7 linked regions of the Homo sapiens genome follow. The protein of the gene in region 1 purifies or fractionates together with the protein of each later gene. This does not show direct contact. Each region holds a gene or a part of one and is shown in the gene's direction. Other genes may lie near its edges. The genes, in order: RCN2, CRY1, POLD3, EMC2, POC5, COQ7 and CORO1C.

Region 1 (3,073 bases):
GAGTTCAGGTACAACTTCAAAGGGGAAAATTGAATGGGATGTGCACATGTTGGCTCATATGTAGTTCTGATTGGGCCAATTTGCAGGACAGAAAATGATGTCTAGATTATGATATAAATTTAAAGGAAGCCAGGACGTTCAGAGGAAAAGCTAGCATATCATGTTTGCCTTACTTAGTTCTTTCCTTTGCAGTTTTAAAAATAGGCTTTTTTTTTTTTTAGTGTAGTTTTATGTTCACAGCAAAATTGAGCAAAAAGTAGTATAGAGAGTTTCAATATGTCCCCTGCCCCACATACGTACAGCCTCCCCCACTATCCTATCCTATATGTCATGAGATAGTACCTACCAGAGTGGTACATTTGTTAAAATCGATGAAACTGTTAACATATCATTGTCACCCAAAGTGCATAGTTTACATTAGGGTTCACTCTTGGTGCTGCACATGCTCTGGGTTTGGACAAATGTATAATTACATATTCCCACCATTGTAGTGTGGTAGAATATTTCCCTTGCCCTAAAGTCTTTCTGCTCCACCTATTCATCCCTCCCTTCCCTGTAACCCCAAGCAATACTGATCTTTTTACTGTTCATAATTTTTTAGATTGTAGTAAAATACACATAACAAAATTCATCTTAACAGTTTTTAATTGTACAGTTCGGTGGTATGGTATTAAATACAGTCAAAATGTGAAACTATTACCACCTTCCATCTCCATGAACTTCATTTGTAAAACGGAAATTTATACCCATTAAACAATAAAGCCCCCTTTCCCCTTCCCTTCAGCACCTGGCAAACACCATTCTAGTTTTTTTGTTTGAGATGGAGTCTTGCTCTTGTTGCCCAGGCTGGAGTGCAATGGCATGATTTCGGCTCACTGCAACCTCTGTCTCTTGGGGTCAAGCGATTCTCCTGCCTCAGCCTCCCGACTAGGTGGGATTACAGGCGGGCACCACCATGCCCCCTAATTTTTTGTATTTAGTAGAAATGGGGTTTCACCATGTTGGTCAAGCTGGTCTCGAACTCCTGATCTCAGGTGATCCACCTGCCTCAGCCTCCCAAAGTGCTGGAATTACAGGCGTGAGCCACCGTGCCCAGCCTCCCATTCTAGTTTTCTTTTTCTTTCTTTTTTGAGACGGAGTCTCACTCTTGTCATCCAGGCTGGAGTGCAGTGGTGCGATCTCGGCTCACTGCAACCTCCACCTCCCAGGTTCAAGCGATTCTCCTGCCTCAGCCTCCCAAGTAGCTGGGATTATAGATGCCCGCTACCACGCCCGGCTAATTTTTGTACTTTTAGTAGAGACGGGGTTTCGCCATGTTGGCATGGCTGGTCTCGAACTCTTGACCTCAGGTGATCCACCTGCCTCGGCCTCCCAAAGTGCTGAGATTACGGGCATGAGCCACCGCGCCCAGCCCCATTCTAGTTTGTGTCTATTAAAATAGACTCATATAGTATTTGTCTTTTTGTGAGTGGCTTCACTTAGCATAACGTCCCCAAAGTTCACCCATATTGTTACCAGAATTTCTTTCGTCAGGCTGAACAATACTTTATTGTTTGCATATACCACATTTTGCTTATCCATTCACCCTTTGATGGACACAGGTTGCTTCCACCTTTTATTGTGAATAATGCTGCCATGAATATGGGTGTACAAATATTTCTTTGAGATCCTGCTTTTAGTTCTTTTGGATATATATTATACATAGAAGTGGGATTGCTGGATCATATAGTAATTCTATATATATATATATATATATATATATATATATATATATTTTTTTTTTTTTTTTTTTTTTTTTTTTTTTTGAGACGGAGTCTCGCTCTGTCGCCCAGGCTGGAGTGCAGTGGCGCGATCTCGGCTCACTGCAGGCTCCGCCTCCCGGGTTCACACCATTCTCCTGCCTCAGCCTCCCGAGTAGCTGGGACTATAGGCGCCTGCCACCGCACCCGGCTAATTTTTTGTATTTTTAGTAGAGACGGGGTTTCACCGTGTTAGCCAGGATGGTCTTGATCTGCTGACCTCGTGATCCGCCCGCCTTGGCCTCCCAAAGTGCTGGGATTACAGGCGTGAGCCACCGCGCCCGACTAGTAATTCTATTTTTAATATTTTGAGGAACTGCCATAGTGTTTCCCACAGCAGCTGTGCCATTTTGCATTTCCACCAATAGTGCACAAGAGTTCCAGTTTCTTTACATCCTTACCAACACTTGCTATTTTCTGTTTTTTTTTTTTTCTTTTTTTTTTTTAATAGTAGCCATCCTGTTGGGTGAGACGTGGTATCTCGTTGTGGCTTTGATTTGCATTTCCCTAATGGTCTGTCTCTACAGTTTTGCCTGTTCCAGAATATCATTCCTTTGCAATTTAAATGTGAGGATAAATGTATGCTATTGTTTCTCAAACGTTTTTGTGTTACAATACCTCCTTTTGAGTGAGAAATGTCAACTCAAACTTACACTTTTTCACTTAGGAAGATGATTTAGGAAAGCCACTTAGAGTAAAAGTTTTTAAACAACTGTAAAAACTAATTTGCTTCATTGCAACATTTGAGTTCTGTCGAATAAATATTTGGCCAGATTTCCTGCCTGCTATAAAATTTTTTATAACTAGTAACCAATTACCTAAGGGCCTCCAGTGCAGCTACTAAAACGTCTCTATTTTATTTGGCGGGGGGGGGGGGAAACACCTCAATCCAAGCACAAAAAAAACAAGTACTGCTGAATACCTACAGTTTGCCCTATCTTTATCTCAAATTAACCAGTTAGTTCCTGAGCTGTAGAAAGGAAACCATTTGAGCTTATAAAACTATTTTAAAGTGATTATGGGGATTTTTAAAAATCTCATAGCTTTTAATCATGATTTTTCATACCTTAAAGAAAAAAACCCTACTTTTGCTTTCTGTTCCACAGAGATATTTTTCTTCTGAGACCAGGTTCCAATGAACAGAGGGCATCAACATTTTGCTCAGTTATTGTACCATTAGCAGTGATTGGTAACCTAAGTAGAGAGACTGTTCCATTACAATGACACACTAAAAGCATAAACTAAGGTCTTTTTGTGCCAGCTGCTGGCCTGTC
Region 2 (3,500 bases), on another chromosome or scaffold:
TTCAGTATTGTAATTAAATAATATGAGGACTGTGCTTCTATGTAGGCAGTACAATTATATGAAGGGATATAGTGAGTTTTACTATCATTTGGCCTATTTAAAAAGCAACCTGTTGTATGTAGTTAATAGCAGTAATAACGGAGCCATCAAATGGGTGTAGTTCAAGAAAATAATATATATGCCAAATTGGAGAAGGTCTGAAAGTATGTTCCTGTTAAGATGATATCATATGTATTTTCAGTGGAATATATTAAAAATAAATCATTCATTTCATTCAATATTGAGTGTCCCAGAGCACATGCATTTCTATTACATTAAAGTTGAACTTGGTGTGTTCTTTGGAACACACTGAATCTGAACTCTAACAGATCTAATCCTTTCCCAGTTAAGGGTAAAGGATTGAGCATTAGATTTTGTATAGTTTTGAAGTAACATTATTCGTTCAGCATTAAAGAGAAATCACACACATCACTGAGTTGATACTTTGAACCTGGGCTGTTAGAGGTATTATCAAGGAAAAATTATATGCTTAGAGATTAGTTGAGTCTTAATTGCGTTGTACCTTGTTTTATAATATTTATAGTCACATTGACCTTGCTACTGGGAAAGGTTTCCTTCAAATCATAGTTCAAAGTCACATTCAGATGAAGTTGTGAATTCAAAGTAATTCTGTATACAGGTGTAGGCATCCAACTAATTCACGTTTTCTTTTGTCATGCCCAAGTATTTACATATAGAAATGCATGGGGTGTTTTCTTTAAAAAAAAAAAAAAAAAAAAACAGGAATTATTCTCAAGGGAAAATAACAACTTCTGTTTGATACATATCTACCATGTGCTAGAGACTCTACTAGGTGATTTTATGAGGCTCCTAATCCTTTCAACAGTTACACAAGACACCCCTACTAGGTCATTTGATCCTGTTTCTAATCTTTTCAACAAATTATACAAGGCACATAATGAGATTTGTTTGCCAAATATAGAAACCAAAATATAGATTAAGAAAACTGTAGTTAGGGCCAGGCCTGATGGCTCATGCCTGTAATCCCAGCACTTGGGGAGGCTGAGGCAGGTGGATCACCTGAGGTCAGGAGTTCAAGACCAGCCTGGCCAACATGGTGAAACCCTATCTCTACTAAAAATACAAAAATAATTAGCCAGGGTGGTAGCACACTCCTGTAATCCCAGCTGCTTGGGAGGCTGAGGCGCAAGAATTGCCTGAACCTGGGAGGTGGAGGCTGCAGTGAGCTGAGATCGTGCCACTGCACTCCAGCCTGGATGACAGAACAAGACTGTGTCTCAGAAAGAGAGAGATGGGGAGAACTGACTTAATTTGAAATCCATTAGGAGGAGGTTTTATTTTATATATATATGTAATATATATATATATATTTTATATATATATGTAATATATATGTAATTATATATAATATATATATTTTATATATATGTTATATATATAATATGTATAATATGAGGTAAAATTTTTTCATCCTCTGAAGGACATAATGTACCTCAGAGGTTCAGAAGATGTAGAAGTGACTTTAAGATGGAAGATTTAAGGTTAGTGTGATATGAACTTAAAGGGATAGGAATTGGGAAAGGTATTCCAAGCCAAGGAAAGGCCCTGGAGCACATTCCAGGAGATTGAATGTGTGCTGAAAGAGAAGTTTGGTTTGGTGTGAGAGAAAGGGGTATGAGGTAGGAAATCAACCTAGAACCCTAGGTTAGTAGCCAAGCAAAATGATTTGTTGTGTATTGTATAGGGAATGAGTCGTTGAAAACCTTTGTATGGGAAGGTGTGCCTCATGAAGATCTGGAATTGCATATAAAATGAATTAGAATGGAGAGAGATTGTTAGTAGGCAGATCTATTTTAAGGCATTGCAGTAAATACAAGCAAGAGATAATATGAACTAGAATTATTGTAGCAAAAACAGAAGTGGAAAGGAAGGAGAACACTAAAAAGTAATAGATAACATATAATTGTGCTTACTATGGGCAGGCACTATTCTAAGAGCTTCGCATATGTTAATTTATTTAATCTCACGAACAATGCTATGAGACAGGTCCGATTACTGTCCCAATTTTACAGATGAGGAGACTAGATAGGACTTTTCAGGATTGATTTAAGGATAGTAATTTGTTGATAGACTTGTTAAATTATAGGACATCTGTGCAATGAAGTACTATGAAACTATGAAAATTGATGCTGTAGAAGTACGTCCATTGCCTTGAAAAGACGTTCACCATGTATTAAACCAGATACATATGTAGTGTATCTCGTTTTTCTTCTACTTTGAAGGAATGTATGCTAATTATCAATTTTAAACTTTTTTTATGAAGTTAAAAAAATGTGTTTGTTTCTCTGTTTCTCACCCCTATCTCAAACCCCCACTCCCTAACGGGGAGATATGATTAATAGCTTGGTAAGTATTTTTCCAATTATTTTCTTGTGCACATATAAACAAAAGTAGATGCATGCAATGTAAATTTTATTTTATCAGAGTAATATATGCAAATAGTTTTAAAAGCCTTATAACAAAGAATAGCATCATAGTGTGTTCTACTTTAGCCTTCTCTTTTGCTTTTCTTTTTGGATCTTTTCTACTTAAAATATTTGATTACAAAATACCTATATTATTTTTTAAGTGTTTCTATTTTTTAAATCTGTGCAGCTTTTATGTGAAATGAGAGATGTAAGTTATATCTGTGGAAGAAGAACACCATACTTAAATACAGCTTTTAGTCTTTTGTTTCATGAAGTACCAAAACAAAATTAATTCTTAGGTTTCAAAACTTTTCCTATTGTAACACATTACTTTAGTCCATATCATTCTGTGCATTTGTTTGGTTCATATAATGTTTATTAAGGCCAGGCCTGTGATGGTTCATGCCTATAATCCCAGCACTTCGGGAGGCTGAGGTGGGAGGATGACTTGAGGCCAGGAGTTCGAGACCAGCCTGGGCAACGTGGGGAGACCCCACCTCTACAAAAACTACAAAAATTAGCTGGGCATGATGGCATATGCCTGTGGTCCCAGTCACTCTAGAGGCTTAGGTGGGAGAAGTCAAGGCTGCAGTGAACCATGATTCCAGCCTTAGCAACAGAGCACAATCCTGTCTCCAAAAAAAAAAAAAGAATGTTTATTAAAAGCATTCGGAATGCTTATTCAGCCTATTAAGAAAGGGAAAGATTATTAATTAATCCATACTTAATTCTTCATTTTATGAATTAATCATGTCCTTTTGGTTTGTTTCTTATCCCATCTTACTGTCATTGAACTCTTGCACCACATAGAATTGTTTTGACCAAAAAGTTGAATATGGAGAACTCTTGCTGTTCTCAGTTCTTACTCACTTCTGGTGGGGAAGATTTTGAAACTAATGGTACAACAGAGATTAGGGGATTATTATTGCCTTAGATTACCCCCTCCAGGACATTTAAGTTTTGTACTGTTTCAATTTAAGAAAACTTAAAATTGCTAGTTCTTTCAACTTC
Region 3 (3,500 bases), on another chromosome or scaffold:
GAGTGCAGTAGTTCAAACATGGCTTCCTTTAGCCATGACCTCCTAGGCTTAAGGGATACTCCCACCTCAGTCTCCTGAGAGTAGCTGGGACCACAGGTACATGCCACCATGCTAGCTGATTTTTTTATTTCGTAGAGTTGGGATCTTGCTGTGTTGACCAGGCTGGTCTTGAACGTCTGGACTCAAGCAGTCCTCCTGCCTCAGCCTCCCAAAGTGCTGAGATTATAGGCATGAGCCACCATGCTCGGCCTCACTATAGTATTTTCACAAACATTTCTCTCAAGTAATTTTTTTTTTTTTTTTTGACGGAGTCTCGCTCTGTTGCCTAGGCCGGAGTGCAGTGGCGGAACTCAGCTCACTGCAACCTCCACCTTCCAGGTTCAAACGATTCTCCTGCTTCAGCCTCCTGAATAGTGGGGATTACAGCACCTGCCACCACGCCTGGCTAATTTTTGTATTTTTAGTAGAGACAGGGTTTCACGATCTTGGCCAGGCTGGTCTTGAACCCCTGACCTCGCAATCTGCCCACCTCGGCCTCCCAAAGTGCTGGGAGTACAGGCTTGAGCCACCGTGCCTGGCCTCATACTGTTTTTTTTTAGCATTATTTCAGGCTATGTCATACAACAGTAAACCTGACAGACAGGGTCCCTCCCCTGGTTGATTTAAACAAGATAATTTCAGACTGTGAAAATGCTGTGAAATAATTAAGTTGGGTTAGAGAAAGCGGTATGGGCAATACACTGTACTCATCCTGGGGAACATTATGGGTGGAACTGATCAGGAGGGAAGATTAATGAATTAAAATGGGAAGCTATAATTAATCATGTGTAGGAAGTGTATCTTGTAAGAAGTCATATATGTTGTTATTATTATTATTTTTTTTTTTTTTGAGACAGCTCTGTTGCCCAGGCTGGAGTACAATGGTGCAATCTCGGCTCACTGCAACCTCCGCCTTTAGAATTCAAGCAATTCTCCTGCCTCAGCCTCCCGAGTAGCTGGGACTACAGGCACATGCCACCACGCCTGGCTAACTTCTTGTATGTTTAGTAGAGATGGGGTTTCACCATGCTGGCCAGCTGGTCTTGAACTCCTGACCTCGTGATCCGCCTGCCTCGGCCTCCTAACATGCTGGGATTACAGGCATGAGCCACTGTGCCCAGCCTGTTGTCATTCTTATTTAAGAATATTTTATATTTTGTTTATTAAAAAATATTTGGCTTAGGCTGGGCGCGGTGACTAATGCCTGTAATCCTAGCACTTTGGGAGGCCGAGGAGGGCAGATTGCCTGAGCTCAGGAGTTTGAGACCAGGCTCAAGCTATCCTCCTGCTTCTGCCTCCCTGAGAGCTGGGATTACAGGCGTGAGCCACCACACCTGGCGCTACTGAAATACAAAAATACTAAAATACAAAAAATTAGCCAGCGTGTGCCTGTAGTCCCAGCTACTTGGGAGGCTGAGGCAGGAAAATCACTTGAACCTAGGAGGCAGACATGGCAGTGAGCTGAGATCGCGCCACTGCACTCCAGCCTGGCGACAGAGCGATACTCTATCTCCAAAAAAACAGAAAAGTTTGGCTTAAATTAGATAAAACATGTTTTAAAGACTCAAAAAGTAGGCAGGAATTCTTTCCTTTTTTTTTTTTTTTTTTTTTTTTGAGATAGGATTTTGCTCTTGTTGTCCAGGCTGGAGTGTGATGGCACGATCCCAGCTCACTGCAACCTCTGTCTCCCAGGTTCAAGCGATTCTCCTGCTTCAGCCTCCCGAGTAACTGGGATTACGGGCATGCGCCACCATGTGCCCGGCTAATTTTGTATTTTTAATAGAGACGAGGTTTCTCTATGTTGGTTAGGCTGGTCTCAAACTCTCAACCTCAGGTGATCTGCCTGCCTTGGCCTCCCAAAGTGCTGGGATTACAGGTGTGAGCCACCGCACCCAGCCACAAGAATTGTTTTTTAAAATAAGAGTTTGCTTTGCATTTTCTGTTAATATAAGAGAGAAGAACTGGGGTCAATTTGGGGAGACAAGTGCATAGAGGACAATGACTGATGATATGGGCAGGACTATTAGTTGTGGATAAAAGATAGTGCATTTGGCCAGCAAGCTTGCAAGCATTTTGGGCATGGTACCTGCCTATCATGTCTTCCTTTAGCATGGTCCAAACTAGCATCAATAAACCAAAATGTTTGTGGATCTGTTAGCTCATTTATCCTTCTAACACAATTGTTGTAATGGAAAGAAACATTAGAGGGCAAAGAGGAGGAATCAGCAAAAATCCTGACTAGGGCACCTTTTTGTACTCAAGGTGTTAACAGTCTAGAGGGGATGCGTCATATGTAAAATAAATAGTTAGAAGGCAGGGTGATATGTGCTGTAATAATAGATATGGGATAAAATTTGTTAGAGCTTGGATGGCAGAAGCTCATTGTCTAGGCATGATGGCTCACTCCTGTAATCCTAGCATTTTGAGAGGCCAAGGCAGGAGGATCACTTGAGCGCAGGGGTTCGAGGTCAGGCTGGGAGATATAACAAAAGCCTGTTTCTACCAGGAAGAAAAAATAATAACCAGGCATGGTAGCATGCACCTGTGGTCCTGTTTACTTAGGAGGCTGAGGAAGGAGGATGGCTTGAGCCCAGGAATTCAAGGTTATAGAGAGCTGCGCCACTGCACTTCAGCCTGGGCGACAGAGTGAGACTCTATCTCTTAAAAAAAAGATGTGCCCTGGTGACCTGATGGTGTTGGGGAAGGGTTCATACTTCATAGAGGAGGTGACAACTGAGCTGCTGTCTTGATGAGAAATTAGGTAGTTGAGGCCTGAGAAGAGCCTTCTAGGCAGAAGGAAGGGCATATACAAAGGAATAAAGAGAATTGTAGAATGTTTCATTAAGGATGAAGATAGTGTAGGTATGATGGGGAATGGTCAGAGATACAGAGCCCAGAACAAGAAGGGTCTTACCTGTCATTGCTAGAGATTTGAAGTTGATCCTTAGGGGATGAGAAGCTACTGAAAGCTTTGTTACACTTTTTTTTTTCTCCTCCCTTTTTGTGGAACATGGGGTCTCGCTATATTGCCCAGTCAGGTCTTGAACTCCTGTGCTCAAGCTATCCTCCTGCTTCTGCCTCCCTGAGAGCTGGGATTACAGGCGTGAGCCACCACACCTGGCGCTACTGAAAGCTTTATAACAAGGAATTATGTTTCAGACAAGACTCTCTAGCAACCTTTTCAACATCAACAGTGACTAATAGGCATTGCAAATTTAATATGCCCCCAAACCTAACTCCTGACTTCTCCCCTCAACACCTGCTTTTCCTGCTTTTCCCCCATCTCAGTGAATTACAGCTTCCTTCTTTGGGTTGCCTAGTCCAGTCATTTTTGACTCTTCTTTCTCTTACACTTCAACACAGTATATCAGCAAATCCTGTTGTTTCTCACTTTAAAATATACCCAGAATTCATCCACTAATTACTACCTGCACTGCTACTGCCCCAAACTGAGCTACCAG
Region 4 (3,500 bases), on another chromosome or scaffold:
AAAAAAGGATGCAAGTCATAAATGTGCCTTTCAGTGACTAATATAAGGTAAATGTATCCAGGCTAATAAATATAAACATTGCAGCATCCCAAAGCTCTCTTGGTAAGTCCTCTTAATTTCTCCTTTTGTATTCCTTAAGAGTACTCACTTATAACCCTATAGTTTATGGAATCAGCCAGTATGTATTCATTTTTGTCTTGCATATTTCTATCATTATTCAGTTTATGGGATTTATCCTTGTTTGTGTCTGTAGTTCATTCATTTTCTTCTGTAGTTCATTGTATGAATGTTATAATTTAGTTATTGCTATGCATTTGGAATATTTTCTGTTTGGGCTATTTTGAATAAACTATACTGAATATTGCTGTACAGGTCTTTTGGTGGAATATATGTGCAGTTCTGTATACCTTTGAGTGAAAATATGGGTCATAGAATGTATGTATATTTAACTTTAGTAGTTAAAGGCAATTTTCCAAATTAGTTTACTCCCACCAGCGGTAAGAGTTCTAATAGCCCCACATCTTCACCAACACATGGTTCTGTCAGTCTTTGTAATTACAGCCATTCTGGTACATGTGTAGAGTGGTACTTCATGGTTTTATTTTGCATGTCCCTGATGATCAGTTGCCATTTGGATGTCCTCTTTCGTGAAATGTTTTTCTCATTGGTTTGCATGACTTATTTCTTTAGTTTTTTGCTTATGAGCCCTTTTTTAGTTATATGTATAAGCAAATATGTATAACTTCTTACTTTTTTGCTCATATGATCTTGATGAATAGAAGTTCTGAAATGAAATGTGTTCGAATGCCTCAGTCATTTGTTTGTGTTTTTTGTGTTCTGTTTAAGAAATCTTTTGCTACTCACGGTCATAAAGAATTCTGTGTGTCTTCAGAATTTCTATTCTTTTACTTTTCGTATTTAATCCACAACCCATTTGGAATTGATTTATTTTTAATTTTTAATTTTTATTTTTTTAAGACAGAATCTGGTTGGTTCTGTTGCCCAGGCTGGAGTGCAGTGGCATGATCATGGCTCACTACACCCTCAACCACCCAGGTTGAGTTATCCTCCTGCCTCAGCCTCCCAACTAGCTGGTACTGTAGACGCATGTCACCGTGCTCGGCTAACTTTTAAATTTTTTGTAGAGATGAGGTCCAGCTGTATTGCACAGGCTGGTCTCAAACTCCTGGCCTCAAGTAATCCTCCTGTCTCAGCCTCCCAATGGAGTGCTAGGATTATAGGTGTGAGCCACCGCATCTGGCCTGGAATTGATTTTTATGTATGATGTGAAATAGGGGGTCCATTGCTCCCCATATGGATATCCAGTGTTTCTGTCCATCTTTGTGTTCCATCATGAGTCCCGTCCATGGAAGCTAGTTCAATGTAGTAAAGAGAAGATTACAGATTTGAACCCATGTTGTCTGGGTTCAAATTTTGACTCTGATATAATTATTAGCTATGCAAACTTGGATAAATTACCTAACATCTCTTGCTGTATCTTTTCTTCTGCAAGATGGCCATAATGAAATATTCTGAGAATTAAAGAAATTAAAACATAAGTTATTATGTTTTTCCTTTTCCCTGTCTCTTCAGTGTGACAAGACCCCCTTGAGGTATATTGAGATATAATTTACATGTAATCAAGTGCATATATTTTAAGTATACAGTCTGAGTTTTGACAAATGTGTACATCCCCTTACCAGCCCCCCACTCAAAATAGCATTTCCATCACCCAAGAAACTTTCCTTCTGCCATTTTGCAGTCAACCTCATCCCCCACTGGGAGACAGACAAGCACTGATCTGATTTTTATCACCAAACATTAGTTTTGCTTGTGCTATAACTTTGTATAAATGAGTTCATAGGTTATGTGCTCTTCTGTGTCTGGCTTCTTTCACTCAGCATGTTTTTGAGATTCATTCATTTACAGTCCATTTCATTTTTCCTATTACTTTGTCTACCCATGTATTTTCCACAAATTATGTAAAGGTAAATTTAAGCCCAAGCAAGGTATCTCAGTTATTACAATGCATGAATCACTGACCTCTGAATTTGATAAGCAAGTTTTTATTGTTTGGTTGTTTTTGTGTTTTTTTCTGGTGAGTTTTCTTATAGATCTTACAGAGAATTATGAAAGATTTACTTAAGCAAAATCTAACTGTATGAAAACAAAAATACAGTATTTGTGAATAATGTAAAAGAGTATATAACTTTCAGAGAATGACATTCTTGATAACTAGGTAAATCTTTGGGATCTCAGTGAGAATTTCTTAATCATATCTAGGAATATAAACCGGTATAGAGTATATAATATTTCGTATGGGATTTTTCTACGTATTTATAAATTAGGGAAAATTAGGTTTCAAGAACTGCTTTTCTTTCTTTGTTTCCACTTAATGATGAAACAGAATATGGCTACTATTTGCTCGTCAATTAGGTAATTGGTTTAGCATGTTCAGTAGAAGCAGACACATTTGATTAATGCACATGAAAAACTTTAATGTGAACCTACTCACAATGATTTTCCAGATAAATCCTTCTTTGTTGCACTGGTAAATCTGTGCTAGTGATTTATATGATATTTATGATTGCAGCAGTGATTCTGTTACTATCCTTTTGGGAAACAGAAAATTAAATCATGATTTGAGGGAAAAAATGATTCTGACTTAATCAGTTAAATTGCCATACAATTCTGGAATAGACAGAATAATTGCATGTCAGATTAAATTTGAAGTGATAGATTTGTATTTCCAACTTTCTTTTATTTGTTCTGACACAAGTAAATTTATTTGGTTTATTCTAAATTGCACTGGTTGTGAGTAATGTTGACACCATCTCAGTTGACTCTTTAAAATTAGCTAATTTTAAAAGATCACACTGTATTATTTTTATGTTTAAGTATAAACCAAGAAAAATACTGTATTTAAAAATACATGTTATGGTTTTAGCTCTACATAATTTTTTTTATTTTTACTTTGCTATTTAAAAGCAATTAGAATAAATGTTACGTGGTAATGTTACTATGTGATGTCCTATTCTGTACCCCTCCCCCAACCCATAAAACTTTTTCTCAGAATTAGACCTTTAAGTATCTGATTAGGACCGTTCCTATTTATGTTTCATAAATGGTGGTAAATGAAAAAGCTTTCTGTTTCTGGTAAATCCTTGTGTAAGTGAATTTATTAACTGGATAACAGAAGTAATAAGCATGCCTCACAGCCTTTAGTCCTCAGGGGAAATTATAAAAAGACAAAATTTTAAATGTGATATTGCTGTTACCATATTTAACATATGAATTCCTTAAATTCGTGATGCCTTTTGAAAGGCAAGGTGATCTTGATTTTTATGAGAAGCTTTTTTTCTTTTTCCTCTGGCATTTCCCCTAGAAACATCCTTTATTTACTTTTTCAAATCAGGATTCAGCTACAGAAACTAATCTAATGGTTTAGAGTGTAGGAAGTGAGGGAATCATAATGTTAAGCTGTAGCCAGAGGGGTCAGA
Region 5 (3,500 bases), on another chromosome or scaffold:
TAGCTTAGAATGTATGCCCTTTTCCTCTCTGGAAATTATTTAAAGAGCAGTTATAAATATCTCTTGGTAAATGTGCCCAATTTACAAAATCTCTTTCTAATGTGACTATTTTTAGAAATTTATTTCAGTTATTCAGTTCTTTTATAAGAGAGAATATTATCTTAGGATTTTAAAGCCTTCTGAATTTTTTTTTAAGAACAAGAGTAATAATATCACTGAAGAAGTACATCAACATATAACATTAATAACATTAGTTATATATAATGTTATTAATATGTTATATGTATAACATTAATTATATATATTTACTTATATATATAACATTTTATGTATGACATATGTTATATATGTTATTAATAGTTATATGTATAACATGTTATTAATAGGTATATATAACATATATAATATATAGTTATATATATAACTATAACATATTAATAGTTACATATATAACTATTATTTGCTTTTATAGGTTTGTTTAATCCAGAAAATCATTGGACAGTCGTTGAGGAACTTCTATATCCAAGATAGTAGTAGGGACCAGAAAGATATTTAAATATCTAAATATTCTGGCCCCTGCCCTCAAATCTAGTGAATAAAGACATGGTGTATATAGGAGAACTTTCAAATGTATAATTGTTTTACCTGAATTGAATGTCAGTAGCTAATTTGCATATACATAAACTTTTTATTGGTGATTACCATATACACATAATGAAGACTTCCTTCTTCTTTTGTTCCCTTTCATTAGTTGATATCTAGTATATTCATGTGAGAAAGTTTTACCATCTTTTTAAAGATAATAATGAGGTTAACTGAATGAATATAGTAGTGATCCATACCTATCCTCTCTAGCATTTTTTGATATATGAGAAAATCACTTTACCAATTGCTGTTATTTTAATATCACAATAATTGGGTTAATTGCTGTTTACAGGTGATTTCTAGCTTGTCTCATGCCATAGGCAAGCAAAAGGAAAAGATAGAGTTGATGAGAACATTCTTCCACTGGCGAATCGGCCATGTCAGAGCCAGACAGGATGTAAGTGTCAAAGCAGAAGACAGCTGATGGATGTTAGACTTCTGAATTCAGAAGTGCTCAGGATCACTTATTATAGTTGTTTTCTAATAAGTCAAAATGAATTTGTGATTTAATGTTCCTCTTATTTCAAAGGAATTTGATTTTGATGTAGTTTGGAAAAAATACAGTTTAGATCTTATTGACATATAATATATATATATTACAATAGATACATCATTTCCTGCTTCATAGTAGGTTAATAAGGATTGTTCCTAAATTGTAAAGGCCCTGGTAATAGAACCCCCTCAGATGTGGTTATTGGAGAAAGAAGTTATGTTTAACATATCAAATGCTTCCTATATTGTTTCTACTTTTAAAATGCCTGAATACAACTTATTCATAAAGAGGCTTTACTATATTTATACATTAAATCACAGTATAAATGTTTGTTATGTAGACTTGCCTTAGAGTGAGAGTCAGAGAAAGCCATACCTGTACAGCTTTTTAAAAGTTATCCTTAGCTTGTAGTATATCATTTAAACTTGAACATCTTTTATTTTAAGTAAGAGCTGAGTTGGTATATCAGTAAATAGTGAACTGAAAGAGAATACTAAATTGTTGTATCAAAAGTGGAAAAGTATGAGTATATCCCACAACAAGACATAGTTTAGAGACACATGAATATAGGAGATGAATATATATATATATGCTTTCCATGTATATTCATGTGAGCTATGGAATAATCTCTGTGTATTTAGTTTCCAAGAGATTAGTATTTAAGGAAAAAGCTAGTACAGGTTGAGTATCCCTTATCCAAAATGTTTGGCACCAGGAGAATTTTGGATTTTAGATTATGTTTCATATCACACCTTATGCACAAAATTCATTTATGTTTCATATTTCACCTTATACATATAGCCTAAGGTAATTGTATACAATATTTTTAATAATTTTATGCATGAAACAAAGTTTGTGTTAAGTACTTCTGTGTGGAATTTTTCACTTGTGGTGTCATGCTGACACTCAAAAAGTTTCAGATTTTTGGATTAGAGATGCTCAACCTACTTTATCCTGGAATAAGATTTCTCCTTTAAGAATACTTTCTGGATTTTTCATTTTTTTAATTAATCCCAGTAGATTAAATCCACATTAAGTAAGCTGGTTAAAATGAATATTTATACTCTACTTTGAAACTTGTCAAGTGAAATAATGAGAATACATATTTATTTTTAAATGTTAGCCAGAATAGTTGAGGCTACTGTCACTTTTGGATAGTTTTTCAAACTGAAGAAATTGAGAATTGGAACTACTTCTTCAAAAGAATTTAAATTCATTGATAAAAGAAAAATAGCATAAGTTTTTATTTGGATTGGCACCATATATGATGGCAGGGTTTATAAATTAAATCTTGCTTGTGGTGGCCATCAAACTGAAGAGAAAGCAGTGTCATCTGAAGCCACAGCCACCACCATTTCCTGCCTTCTAGCCACTCTGTTATTCTCCTGGTCCTGCTAAATTCATAACTAAGATGGCAAGTGGTGATTTGCTCATTTTCTTTCATTTGGTTGTATTCTTTTTCTCTAACTTGATTAGTTGCATAAAGCAATGATGTAATGGATAAGAGCTCAGTCTCTGGAGTCAGGCAAGTCTGGCTTTACTCATCTACTTATGTGAACTACGTAGCTTGCTTAACCTCTCTAAGCCTGTTCTCCTATATGCAAGATGAGAATAATATGATTACATAGAATTAAATAATGTGTATATGTACACTTACCACCATGTTATGTTTATTATTACTACCAATATATTTATCAATCAACTGTGTTTTTGAAGTTATATTTTACTTTTATTTAGGTTTATGAAGGTAAACTAGCTGACCAGTACTACCAGAGAACTTTACTGAAGAAAGTCTGGAAAGTCTGGCGTTCCGTAGTGCAAAAGCAGTGGAAAGATGTGGTAGAAAGAGCTTGTCAAGCAAGAGCTGAAGAAGTTTGTATCCAGATTTCCAATGATTATGAAGCCAAAGTTGCTATGGTAAGCATCTTTTTCTGGTTTTCACTTTCTTCTAATACAATAAAAAGATAGATAGACTCACTATTAATTAATAGACTTCTTCTTTTGGTCTTTAATCAAGAATGCAGACAAAAAAATGAAAACGTTTATTCTTGTGTTAATTTAATGTTTATTGTATATTCTTACATGGTTGATATAAGGAGTTGTATAGAAATTGAAATTATTAGTTGGGCGCGGTGCCTCACTCCTGTAGACCCAGCACTTTGGGAGGCCGAGGCGGGCAGATCACCTGAGTCAGGAGTTTGAGACCAGCCTGGTCAACATGGTGAAACCCCGTCTCTACTAAAAAAATTAGCTGGGTATGGTGGCACATGCCTATAATACCCGCTACTCGGGAGGCTGAGGCAGGATAATCTTTTGAACCTGGGAGGCAGAAGTTGCAGTGAGCTATATCACACTGTTGCAC
Region 6 (3,500 bases), on another chromosome or scaffold:
TCTTGCTGTGTCCTCTTATGACCTCATTCTGTTTACTTCATATTTTTCCGAGGTTAAATTGACTGCCTTTTTTTGTGTGTGGTTAAATTTATTTAAGATAGAATCTTAATGTCAGTACTTTAAAAAAAAAGGCCGGGCGTGATGGCTCACACCTGTAATCCCAGCACTTTGGGAGGCCGAGGCGGGCAGATCATGAGGTCAGGAGTTCGAGACCAGCCTGAACAACATGGTGAAACCCCCGACTCTATTAAAAATACAAAAATTAGCCGGGCATGGTGGTGCGTGCCTGTAATCCCAGCTACTTGGGAGGCTGAGGCCAGAGAATCGCTTGAACCTGGGAGCTGGAGGTTGCAGTGAGCCAAGATTGGCCCACTGCACTCCAGCGTGGGTGACAGAGCGACACTCTGTCTCAAAAAAAAACCAAAACAAAACAAAAAAAAACAAACCAGAGCCAGGGTCTCACTCTGTTGCCCAGGCTGGAGTACAGTGGTATAGTCGTAGCTCACTGAAACCTCAAACTCTTGGGTTCAAGTGATCCTCCCACCTAAGCCTCTGAGCCTGAGTATCTTGGACTACTGGCGCATGCCACCACGCACAGCTCTATTTTTTTTGTAGAGATGGGGTCTCGTTATGTTACCTAGGCTGGTCTCAAACTGCTGGCCTCAAGCCATCTTCCCTCTCTGGCCTCCCCGAAGTGCTAGGATTACAGGCGTGAGGCACTGCACCTGGCCTAATGTCAGTATTATAAATAGAAAATACAGTAAAAATAAACAACAGAGAAAAAAAGCTAGTAGAATTCAGTTGCAGCCAAATACTGTTCCCTGACAACGATTCTCAACCTGAGATCTGTTCACTCTTTTAAAAAACGGAGAAGAATAAATGGTATAAAAGATCAAAGATATACTCACCCCAAATGCTGACTTCTCTTGGCCACGGTCAGGATAAAACAGCATTGAAAAGAGAATGGTTTTTCTTAACTGTGTAATTCCAGGTTTAACACTGGGATCCAGTGTCTCCTAAAACAGTGGTTCTCCCTCAGGGTGAGTTTGTCCCCCTGATGAGGACATGTGGCAATACCTAGGGACATTTTTTTTTTTTTTTTTTTTTGAGATGGAGTCTTGTTCTGTCACCCACGCTGGAGTGCAGTGGCGTGATCTTGGCTCACTGCAACCTCCACCTCCCGGCTTCAAGCGATTTTCCTGCCTCAGCCTCCCAAGTAGCTGGGATTACAGGCGCCCACCACCACACTGACTAATTTTTGTATTTTTAGTAGAGACGGTTTCACCATGTTAGCCAGGTTGGTCTCGAACTCCTGACCTCAGGTGATCCGCCTCGGCCTCCCAAAGTGCTGGGACTATAGGCGTGATCCATTGTGCCCAGCCCTCGGGACAGTTTTGATTGTCAAAACTTAGTTGGCACTGCTGGCATCTAGTTGGTAGAGGTCAGAGATGCAGTTAAATATCCCACCATGCATGGGACAGCCCCTGTCACAAAGAATGACCCGGCCCGATGTCTGGTGCAGAGGTTAAGAAGCCCTGGCCACAGATGGTCTCCATTACCGGTCATATCTGTCTCTTACTTTTCTGGTCTGGGTTTAACAATCCCAGGGGCGGGGACCGCCTTGCTCGGGAAGGAAGGTGCCATGGCCTGCACCGTGGCGGTGGAAGAGAGCATAGCACATCACTACAACAACCAGATCAGGACGCTGATGGAGGAGGACCCTGAAAAATACGAGGAACTTCTTCAGGTATTTATCCGTGCTCTAGAACGGGGCTGCTCAAGGAGGAAAATGGCAGATAGCAATTGGGTAAGAGGAAAACATGTTAGAGATTGTTAGGGGATGATGGGGGTTTAGAGGCTCAGGTCAGTGCCTCAGTTTAAAGGTGAGCAAACTGAGGAACAGAGAGGTGAACCCGTCTGCCCTGGCCATACAGCACAGACAGAGCTGGGACTAGAACCCTTGTCTCCTTTGTCTTTTTTCTTTTTATTTAGAGATGAGGTCTTGCTCCGTTGCCCAGGCCGGAGTACAGTGGCACAGTCATAGCTCACTGCATCTTCAAACTCTTGGGTTCAAGTGATCCTCCTGCCTCAGCCTCCCGAGTAGCTATGGGACTACATACATAGCCACCACTCACAGCTAATTTTTTTTTTTTTTTTTTTTTTAAGAGATGGGGTCTCACTATGTTTTCCAGGCTGGTCTTGAATTTCTGAGCTCCAGTAGTCCTCTCTCCTCAGCTTCCCAAAGTGCTAGAATTATAGGCATGAACCACCACATCCGGCCAGAACCCTTGTCTCTTGAGCCCTGTCCTGTTCACTTATTTTATTTTTAATTTTTAAAATTTTTTGTAGGCACAGTCTCTCTCTATGTTGTCCAGATTGGTCTTGAGCTCCTGGGCTCAAGTGATTCTTCTGCCTCGGCCTCCCAAAGTGCTGAGATTACAGGTGTGAGCCACACCACCTGGTGCTGTTCACTTTTTTTTTTTTTTTTTTTTTTTTTTTGAGATGGAGTCTCACTCTGTCCCCAAGGCTGGAGTGCAGTGGTCTCCGCCTGCATTGCAGCCTCCGCCTCCCGGGTTCCAGCGATTCTCCTGCCTCGGCGTCCCAGGTAGCTGGGATTACAGACATGCACCACCACGCCCAGCTAATTTTTGTATTTTTAGTAGAGACGGGGTTTCACCATGTTGGCCAGGCTGGTCTGGAACTCCTGACCTCAGGTGATCCTCCTGCCTTGGCCTCCTAAAGTGCTGGGATTGCAGGCGTGAGCCACCGCGCCCGGCCCACTTCTTTATCATTGGTAGATTCTGAGCAGATGCTGTGAGCAGGAACCCTTTAGATTGAATAAATGAATAGATATCCTGAGATAATTTTCCACAGCAAATAAGGGAACTGTTTAGTTTTTTAGAGTCTAAATCTGAGGTTGGCAAACTATGGCCTGTGGCCAGCCACCTGTTTCTTTAAATAAACTTTTATTGGAACACAAGCACGTCCATTTGTTTGCATGTCTCCGGCTGCTTTTCTGGTTACAGTGGCAGAGTTGGGTAGTTGCAACAAAGTATTTACTCTCTGGCCCTTTAGAGGAAAAGCTGGCCTCCCTGTCTTAGGCCATAATAAGAGGCTTTAGCCTCCAAAATGAAATGGAACAGCAGGAGAGTTGGAAGGCTAACTTGCTTTGGTGTCTTTTTATTTAACCAGCTGATAAAGAAATTTCGGGATGAAGAGCTTGAGCACCATGACATAGGCCTCGACCATGATGCAGAATTGGTAGGGCCCTACTGTTACCTGTTCTGCTTTGGGACTCCTTATTTGGGAGGCTGAAGGGGCAGGAGGTTTCTGTTGCCAGAAAAATACATTTTAAAGTGACAGCGAAAGGGAGAGAAAACCAATGACGTTGCTTTGACAAAAAGCAAGCAAACGCATTATTGCTCCAGATTGGGAATCTCCTTTCTTGCTTTATGCCTTCTCCTTTTCCCCAGAAGCTTTTTTTTTTTTTTCCCAGACAC
Region 7 (3,500 bases), on another chromosome or scaffold:
TCAATTTTAGAACATTTTCATCCCCCCCAAAAAGAAACCCCATACCCCTTAGAAGTCCTCCCGTTTCATGTAAATGGAATCATACACTATGTGGTCTTTTGTGTCTTGCCCTTATTTAGCATATTTTCAAGGTTTATATGTGTGGTAGTATTGTATAGTACTTCATTTTTTTTTTTTAATGGTCAAATAATATTCCATTGTTTGGATATGCCGTATTTTGTTTATCCATTCATCAGTTGATGAACATTTGGGTGTTTTTCCTTTTTGGCTATTATGAATAATGCTGTGAACATACGTTTTCATTTCTCCTGAGTATTTACCTAGGAATGTAATCGATGGGTTGTATGGTAACTCTATATTTAACTATTGGAGGAATGGCCAGACTTCTCCAAAGCAGCTGCACCATTTTACGGTATTCACCAAGAGTATATGAAGGTTCTAAATTCTCCACATTCTTGCCAACACTTGTTACTCTCTGACTTTTTGATTCTAGTCATCTGTGTTTCCCTAATGGCTAATGATGTTGAGCATCTTTTCATGTGGTTGGTGAACATTTGTATGTGTAATCTTTGGAGAAATGTCCATTCAAATGCTCTGCCCGTTTTTTAATGGGTTGTCTTTTTATTGGTGTTATAAAAGTTGTTCATGTATTCTAGATTCAAGTGCCTTATCAGCTGTATGATTTGCAAAAATTTTCTTGGATTCTGACATGTCCTTTCATTTTCTTGATGGTGCCCCTTTTTAGGAACAAAGATTTTAAATTTTGATGATTTCCAATTTATGAATAGTGGGGTCTTACTAGTTAGAAATTAGACCTTAAACCACACCCTCCTCAATATTTTGGTTATATAAGTTGAAACCCAAATGTGAGAGGACTGGGGAAAGGTTTGAATTAATATATTTTAAGGTATGCTATAGATGAAAAAGGATTCATCAGGGAACATGCCATTCACCTGTTCAAATCCTCTGGTGACCTCACCTTTACCCACAAAATAAAGTTCAGACTCCTTAATGAGGTGTGGAGTAAGGTGGGCTCTGATTTCAGCCTGCTTTATTTCTCACTATTCCCCTTCCAATGTCTTCATCTCTAGTGCCACTCCCTGAAACATCCCAGCTTTCAAATCTTGTGATGAATTTATTACTTCATCGCCTTTCTACTTCTAGAATCCCACTTGTCCTTTGGGACATGGGTCATGAGGTTTTTCCTCCATGAAAACTTCCTCATCTCACAGGCAGACATTTGTCCCTGCCCTCATGTATTGTACATTCATCAGGACTGTTTGCTACAAAGAACTGGACCTGAATTTGAGCTAATAGTCTGAAAGGTGCCTTTCCATACAAGGCAGAATGCAATAGAGCAATTCACATGGAAGGCAGACTGAGATTCTCTTGTTCATGGCTTGGTCATTAGTGCCTACTGGATATTCGCTGAATGAATGATTGTTTATTGAAGTTAACTGGAAAGATCCTGAGGTCAGTGGGTTTCTCTGATTATCATGAATGTCTTTATTGCCTATGTTAAAATAACATGAATGGGGTAACTCCCTTTTGCCCTTCTGGCATCCAAGTCCAGCTCTTACCAAAAAGTGCTCAAATGTAAAACTGAGTGTTTAAAACATTTCCCCAATGGCAGAACATTCTCGTCCAGGTTCTTTCCCCCGATGAACAGTAATGACTGGCGCACAGTCTCCTCAGTAGGGTAGATGGCCAGCGAACACGATTTAGTCACACCAAATGCATACAGGCCGACCCTGATAGTATTTGGTCAGTTAGTACTGGAACTACCCCTGTCACACTCATGAGAATGGTTGTAAATTGGATTTTAAGGGTGTGTACTTTCTTTTCATTCTTTTTTTTTTTTTTTAATGTTTTGTAGAGATGGGGTCTCACTATGTTGTATAGGCTGGTCTTGAACTCCTGGGCTCAAGCAAGTCTCCTACCTTAGCCTCCGAAAGTGCTAGGATTATAGGCGTGATGCACCATGCCCAGCCTCTTCATTCTTTTGTTCATGCTCTCCTCTCTTGGGGTGTCTGACTCAAATTAGTATTCTTTAGTTATATTTTGTGTTCTTATGTTCATTTTTTTTTTTTTTGAGACAGAGTCTCACTCTGTCGCCCAGGCTAGAGTGCTGGAGTGCAGTGGCACGATCTCAGCTCACTGCAAGCTCTGCCTCCCAGGTTCACGCCGTTCTCCCGCCTCAGCCTCCCAAGTAGCTGGGACTACAGGCGCCCGCCACTACACCCGGCTAATTTTTTGGTATTTTTTAGTAGAGATGGGATTTCACTGTGTTAGCCAGGATGATCTCGATCTCCTGACCTCATAATCCGCCCGCCTCGGCCTCCCAGATTATGTTTATTTTTAAAATACTTTAATTAAAAATATTTCATGCCGGGCGTGGTGGCTCACACCTGTAATCCCAGCACTTTGGGAAGCTGAGGCGGGCAGATCACGAGGTCAGGGGTTTGAGACCAGCCTGGCCAACACGGCCAACCTGTCTCTGCTAAAAATACAAAAATTAGCCGGGTGTGGTGGCACGCGCCTGTAGTCCCAGCTACTCAGGAGGCTGAAGCAGGGGAATTGCTTGAAACCTGGGAGGCAGAGGCTGCAGGGAGCCTAGACTGCGCCATCACACTCCAGCCTGGGCGACAGAGTTGCACTCCAGCCTGGGCGGCAGAGAAAGAATCCGTCTCAAAAAAATAAATAAATAAATAAATAAATTCACTTAGCACCTTTCTGAGAATTAGGAGAAACCAGTTGGCCATTTCGGGATACCTTTTCTTTGTGTGTTCGTTAAAGCTTGGATTGTGGCAAGGTAGTACAGAAGAGAAAGAAAAATGTCAACTTTTTTGTCTAGTTAGGGACAGTGAGCTATGGGTACCTTCTGTAGTTCTCGTTCTAAGAGAGTTTTGTATTTAGGGGAACTGAGGCCGTGAGGGTGCAGGCCTTTAGGGCCAGATAGAGCTGGGCTTCACTCTTGGCTCCGCTTCTTGCTAGCTGTGACTTTGCCAGCTCCCTCACCTCCCTGAGCTTCACTTTCCTCCTCTGTAGTGTGGAGATGCAAAAGGCTTACCTTGCAGGGTCATTGGCAAGATTAAGCAAGGAAAATTATATGAAGTGCCTAATACAGAGTAGGTACTGAATACATTCCTGTTCCCTCTCTTCTCTCTTAAATGTCTGTTAATGAATGGAACTGCAGAGAAGCAAATAGAGTAAGTTTAATACATTTTACATCTGACATTAAGCTATTAAGGGTATGGATTCCTACTCCCACCTGAGGATTTTAGACTTTGAATCAAAGTTGAGTCACTGAAGAGGGCAAAAAATGTCTAATTTTAGGATGGGAAGGCGGTCTTAAAAACACCTCCAGTGTTTTTGCATCTGTCTGAATTGGAAATGTCTATTCAGACAGTCTTCTCTATTCAGGTCTGTGTATTCAGTCTCTCTGTCTGTGTGTCTGTCTGTCCATTTTAAGGAAAGTTCCTGGCAAAAGATGGATTTTT

The links.
Region 2: the proteins of RCN2 (region 1) and CRY1 purify together in Homo sapiens (co-immunoprecipitation; one large-scale study listed by IntAct). This does not show direct contact.
Region 3: the proteins of RCN2 (region 1) and POLD3 purify together in Homo sapiens (tandem affinity purification; one large-scale study listed by IntAct). This does not show direct contact.
Region 4: the proteins of RCN2 (region 1) and EMC2 fractionate together in Homo sapiens (co-fractionation; one large-scale study listed by BioGRID). This does not show direct contact.
Region 5: the proteins of RCN2 (region 1) and POC5 purify together in Homo sapiens (co-immunoprecipitation; one large-scale study listed by IntAct). This does not show direct contact.
Region 6: the proteins of RCN2 (region 1) and COQ7 purify together in Homo sapiens (co-immunoprecipitation; one large-scale study listed by IntAct). This does not show direct contact.
Region 7: the proteins of RCN2 (region 1) and CORO1C fractionate together in Homo sapiens (co-fractionation; one large-scale study listed by BioGRID). This does not show direct contact.

The regions. Positions count from the first base shown.
Region 1 is NC_000015.10:76,951,821-76,954,893, forward strand, and holds the end of RCN2 (reticulocalbin-2 isoform a precursor), read left to right. Parts: 3' UTR 1-2,573; downstream 2,574-3,073.
Region 2 is NC_000012.12:107,024,050-107,027,549, reverse strand, and holds part of CRY1 (cryptochrome-1), read left to right. Parts: intron 1-3,500.
Region 3 is NC_000011.10:74,599,082-74,602,581, forward strand, and holds part of POLD3 (DNA polymerase delta subunit 3), read left to right. Parts: intron 1-3,500. UniProt on the Homo sapiens protein: Accessory component of both the DNA polymerase delta complex and the DNA polymerase zeta complex.
Region 4 is NC_000008.11:108,481,624-108,485,123, forward strand, and holds part of EMC2 (ER membrane protein complex subunit 2), read left to right. Parts: intron 1-3,500. UniProt on the Homo sapiens protein: Part of the endoplasmic reticulum membrane protein complex (EMC) that enables the energy-independent insertion into endoplasmic reticulum membranes of newly synthesized membrane proteins.
Region 5 is NC_000005.10:75,689,938-75,693,437, reverse strand, and holds part of POC5 (centrosomal protein POC5), read left to right. Parts: intron 1-937; coding exon 938-1,042; intron 1,043-2,875; coding exon 2,876-3,055; intron 3,056-3,500. UniProt on the Homo sapiens protein: Essential for the assembly of the distal half of centrioles, required for centriole elongation. Acts as a negative regulator of centriole elongation.
Region 6 is NC_000016.10:19,074,114-19,077,613, forward strand, and holds part of COQ7 (NADPH-dependent 3-demethoxyubiquinone 3-hydroxylase, mitochondrial), read left to right. Parts: intron 1-1,607; coding exon 1,608-1,747; intron 1,748-3,192; coding exon 3,193-3,261; intron 3,262-3,500. UniProt on the Homo sapiens protein: Catalyzes the hydroxylation of the 5-methoxy-2-methyl-3-(all-trans-polyprenyl)benzoquinone at the C6 position and participates in the biosynthesis of ubiquinone.
Region 7 is NC_000012.12:108,725,019-108,728,518, reverse strand, and holds part of CORO1C (coronin-1C), read left to right. Parts: intron 1-3,500. UniProt on the Homo sapiens protein: Plays a role in directed cell migration by regulating the activation and subcellular location of RAC1. Increases the presence of activated RAC1 at the leading edge of migrating cells.